Regions from separate parts of the Homo sapiens genome. Here region 2 is linked to region 1. A link means that fine-mapping ties the variant in region 1 to the expression of a gene that starts in the linked region. Tissue or cell type: tibial nerve. Region 1 holds a variant in brackets; the other region holds the start of a gene. All regions are shown on one strand. Distances are from middle to middle.

Region 1 (2,729 bases):
CAAAACTCTTTTTTTGGACATATCCAACCCATATTTGAAAAAGCAAGTGAGCTCCTCTAAACCTAATTGCAAAATCTTAAGGAAATCTGATTGTTTCTAGAAGCTAAAGATTACTGGCTGGGTGTGGTGCCTCATGCCTATAATCCCAGCACTCTCGGAGGCCAAGGCAGGAGCATCACTGGAGGCCAGGAGTTCAAGACCAGCCTAAGCAACACAGTGAGACTCCCATCTCTTTATAGAAATAAATAAAAATAAAGATAAACTTAGTGCTGAAGAGGTAAATAGCACTACCTCTTAGTTTTCTTCTTCTATAAGAAGTGCTCACCTATGATACCCTTTTGAAAAACCTACTGCATCTTTTCCATTTCCTATTTCAAAAATAGAAAAATATTAAATATTAGAATGCTAATATTCAACATAAACTTCAAAAGTGAGATTTTAGCATTAACTCTGTTATTTGGTTAAAATCTTGAATTTAAAACTTCTACCTGCAGATATTAAGTTTAGCTTTTAGTATTTTATGTGTGCACAGTGGTCTTAAAAGTAACGATGTACTAAAAATACAAAAAATTAGCCGGGCGCGGTGGCGGGCGCCTGTAGTCCCAGCTACTCGGGAGGCTGAGGCAGGAGAATGGCGTGAACCCGGGAAGCGGAGCTTGCAGTGAGCCGAGATTGCGCCACTGCAGTCCGCAGTCCGGCCTGGGCGACAGAGCGAGACTCCGTCTCAAAAAAAAAAAAAAAAAAAAAAAAAAAAAAAAAAAAAAGTAACGATGAAAATCTTGGGGTGTTAAAAAAGAATAGCTTAAAACAAAATGAGAAGACAGGCCACTGACTGAGAGAAAATACTTGCAAAAGACACATTCGATAAAGAACACAACTGAAATATACAAACAACTCTTAAAATTCAACAATAAGAAAATGAGTAACCCAATTAAATAATGGGCAAAAAACCTGAAAGACATCTCACCAGAGAAGATATACAGGTGGCAAATAAGCCCATGAAAAGATGCTCCACATCATACTTCATCAAAGAAATGCAAATTAAAGCAATGACAAGATCCCACTGTACAGCTATTAAGATGGCCAAAATCCAGAACACTGACAACATCAAATGCTGACGGAGATGCAGAGCAGCAGGAACTCTCATTCACTGCTCGTTTGAATACAAAATGGTACAGTCACTCTGGAAGACAGGTTGGTAGTTTCTCAGAAGACTCCTGGCATATGATCCAGCAATTGTGCTCTTTGGTCGTTACGTAAATAAGTTGAAAACGTCTATCCACAAAAAACCTGCGCACAGATGTTTGTAGCAGCTTTACTCATAATTTCCAAACCTTGTAAGCAACCAAGATATCCTTCAGTAGGTGAG[T/G]GCATAAACTGTGGTGCATTCAGACAATAGAATATGCAGTGCTAAAATGAAGTGCGCTATCGAGCCACAAAAACCTAACCAAAACAACATGGAGGAACCTTACATGCATATGTTCTACCAGGTGAAAGAAGCCAATCTGAAAAAGCTACACCCTGTGTGACTCCAACTATATGACCTTCGATGGAGACAAAACTAGGGAGACAGTAAAAAGATCAGCGGTCAGCAGGGATTTGGGGGGAGACAGGGAACAGACAGAACACAGGAAACTTCTAGGGCAGTGAAACTGTTCTGTGTGATACTACAGTGGCAGATGCATGTCATTATACATTTGTCAAAACCCACAGAGACTGCTCTAAAAAGTAAAGTCTATGTTTGAAATAAAGAAAAATAGCTTATGATACTTCAAAAATCAAAGTCTAATATGAGACCTGTTGTTAGTTATCTGCAGTCATTTTGCTTAGCATAAACTCTATCAAGTTCTACAGACTCAGAGGGAAAAAACTACTGTGAAGTCTATAATCGTATTTTTATGCTTCAGATATTTTTTATTGAATTTAACCTCAAGTATGCTGCCTCATTTCATTCTGAAATAATTTCAGAAAGACGTTGGAGAATTAAATGTGGGAGGCAGACATGAAACATTTTTTCTCTGAAGAAAACCACCAAGTTGATTCCAAACGTACATACTTGGGGGAGGCATATGTAATTTGTCTGGTTTTACTCATCACTATTTGTTATCAGGGAGAACCATTCTCCTTTTTGAAATTCTTCAGACCAGATTCTTAGTAGTCCAGGCTCAACTTCTTGGCTTCATTTCTGGACATGACCACTCACTGCCATTTATTCAATACCTACTATGTGCTGGACTTCATGTCTGATGATTTATATGTATTTTCTGTAGGTCTCCCATCAACCCTGCTGAAAAACATTTTGACAATTTATACATTAAAAACATTGCAATTCAAGAACATTAACATTCTAATATTACAAAGCCAATGAACAGAACTGCCAGAATTTGATCTAAAGACTGCCCACACCCAAAACCCAGTTGCTTTCCATAATGTGCTGTCAGGTTACTTTGGAAAAACCTTAATTCATCCCTGAGGAACATTTTCTGTAAAGCTTCTGCCATCATCCTATTAGTATTTCTTTACTGCCTCTTACATTTCTGCTAACAGCATACGTTCTCCCATCTTCTGAGAATAGAAGCAATCAGCCCTCCCTGACTCTCAGTTAAAGAGAGAGATCCCAGGGTTTGGCACCATACCTGTGTCTGACGTCAGCTTATACCCATCCTCATGTTTGAAGTGATCATCCTGGTATGGTCTGTTTTTTGTTTGAACTCTTGTAGAAGATCAAC
Region 2 (2,500 bases), 50 kb before region 1:
TTAGTAGAGACGGGGTTGCACTATGTTGGCCAGGCTGGTCTCAAACTCCTGACCTCAGGTCATCCACCCGCCTCAGTCTCCCAAAGTGCTGGGATTACAAGTGTGAGCCACCGCGCCCAGCTGCCATTGGGTCTTAATTCTCCAGAAACAGTATCTCAGTCAAGAATGCAAAGCTGTGGCAGGATTTTTCCATGAGGGGTCCACTGAGGCACTCACTGGCCAAGGTGGGCGCTCAACTAGTCCAACCTAGGCAAGGGAGGGGAGAATCTGTTTTCTCCCTTCCATTATTTCAGAAGTTATGTTTCTCCAGCAGACACACGGCTGTGCAATTTCGAAGACTGAGGGGAAACTAGGGAGGAAAATGCAGAAAACTCTCTGTTGCATGCCCTGTGAATTGGGCTTTAAATGTAGCAAGGAGCTCCAGGATCCCAGAAGTTGGCCTGGGGTGCTTGGTCCTGAGGATAAGACAACCTCCCTTGTATTGTAATTCTGCCCACAGCTGGAGCTTCCTATTTCAGTGTTGCATCCAAGAAGTTACATTTCCTGTTTGTTGCAAGAAAAATAGAATCTGACCAGGATGGAGGCTAGGCATGGGGGCTCACATCTGGAATCCCAGCAGTTTCGGAGGCTGAGGCAAGCAGATAGCTTGAGCCCAGGTGTTCAAGACCAGGATGAGCAACATGATGAAATCCCATCTCTACAAAAAATAGCCAGGCAGTGTAGTGCACACCTGTAGTCCAGCTACTCTGGAGGCTGAGGTGGGCAGATTGCTTGAGCCGGGGGAAGTTGAGGCTGCAATGAGCTTTGATCTCACCACTGCACTCCAATTCTGAGACTGGGGAGTATTGATTTGCCACTGACCTGAGCCCGGCTGATAGGGGCAGCAGGACAGACACTGTTACCTTAATCAAAGACATTCACGAAGCATTCTCACTGAAGATCTGCCCTAGTATCCTGCACAGCCACTTGCCTGGGTCTTTATAGGTAACAGGTAGACAGTCATCAAAGAGATAGGGGAAAACATGCACAATGAATTCTTTGCTCAGAAAAACCCTTCTGTGTCTTCTCCCACTTTTTCTAAATTTTTCCTGCTTTCATTTAGATCAAAGGATTTTGTTTCTTGGAATAGTTCTGCACTTGGTCCTTTAGAAAGGATGACAATTATCTGTAGGTCTCTCTGATTTTAAGATCAATAGAAATCAGCAAAAGCCAAAAAATAAAAAATAAAAATAAAATAAAAGCACACAAGCACATTCAAGCACATCCATCTGCCCCTGACTTGTCCTCACAGTAAGCAACTGCTTCTGACTTTGCTGTTTGAATAACCTCTGGGTGTTCGATCCACCCACACAGCTCAAGTTTGAGCTCCAGAACAAATATTTGTCCCAATTTTGAACAAAGTTAGAGAGTTTTTTCTTCTTTTTTCTTCTTTCTTAAAGCGAACTGTACTCCTCTGCTGTTCCTTTGAACTTGGTTCAGTAGGAAGAAGTGATATCCTCCCCAGACCATCTGCTTTGGGGAGCTTGGCAAAACTGTCCAGCAAAATGAAAAGACTCACGTGCTTTTTCATCTGCTTCTTTCTTTCTGAAGTATCAGGCTTCGAAATCCCCATAAATGGACTTTCTGAAGTAAGTACTTACAGATCACTCCTTGCTGTTGGCTTGTTCATGAGCTCAGTAAATCATCTATTGGAATCGCTATTCAATGGCCTTATTCTGTGTGTAATGGAAACTTAAGATAAAATTCATCTGAGTGCAAGTGTTTACTGTTATAATTACTGGAATGTATATTTACCTTTTAAAGCATTAACAGGTTTTGCATGAAAATTAAGTCAAGATCAATGGGCAGGCATCAGAGCGTAGCATTTATGGAGCAGAGCTGCTCACTCCTCACCTAAAAAATTGGGGGTAAGAATAGACCTAACCCAATGGTTTGCTTTGAGAATTAAATGACACAGTGTAAACTCTTCTAGCAGAGCGCCTGGACTAGTAAGTGCTTAATAATTACTAGCTGTTATGATGATGAAGAAATATTATCACTCTTTTACTAAGAGTATAAGAAAAGTCATTATCAAAGCACACTGTTTTTCATATCTAAGTGAACAGTGATATTTGTAATAAGAGCACTTTAAGTATTCCTATTAAAGCGGAAGATAGCAGGCAGGGTGGAAAAGTACAAGAATAATTCCCATGGAGTACAGGTCTCCACTTTTGTCCCTTAGCCATCTCCAATGTAAGGAAAGTCTTGGACTGAAAGTCTGTTTCTGAAAGTCATACAAGAGCTATTTTTATGCCAGAAAAGCGAAGCATGTTATGGGAACATCCCAGCAAATGCAAAGGCTTATAATACTTGCAGAGTGGATTACCTATAAAAATGCCAGAGAATATGACGGCATATTTACAAAGGGAAAATATCACTCTGTCTGCTTTGAAACTATCATATTTTCCAACACTTAAAAGCCACCAGAGTGTGTTAGAAATCTCAAATTGAAGCCAAGACA

Alleles and levels. Alleles are on the strand shown, and positions count from the first base shown. SD is a standard deviation of normalised expression in the study named.
For the expression in tibial nerve of the gene that starts at base 1,426 in region 2, G is the high allele of the variant in region 1 and T is the other (moderate effect, 0.74 SD a copy in GTEx).

The links. PIP is the estimated chance that this variant, and not a neighbour inherited with it, causes the effect.
Region 2: it holds the start of ITIH2, and the variant in region 1 is fine-mapped to the expression of ITIH2 in tibial nerve (GTEx, PIP above 0.99). The same link has a PIP of 0.9 or more in cerebellar hemisphere, cerebellum, cerebral cortex, ileum, left ventricle and lung.

Annotation. Positions count from the first base shown.
Region 1 is chr10:7,751,316-7,754,044 of GRCh38, forward strand. KIN (Kin17 DNA and RNA binding protein) reads right to left here. Exons shown (of 13, transcript NM_012311.4): 13 at 1-2,729. Among named protein-coding and RNA genes, the nearest start is that of KIN, 35 kb to the right of the region's middle. The variant T/G (reference allele first, on the strand shown) is at 1,370.
Region 2 is chr10:7,701,891-7,704,390 of GRCh38, forward strand. It overlaps ITIH2 (inter-alpha-trypsin inhibitor heavy chain 2), which reads left to right and starts at 1,426. Exons shown (of 21, transcript NM_002216.3): 1 at 1,426-1,628. The coding sequence starts at 1,545.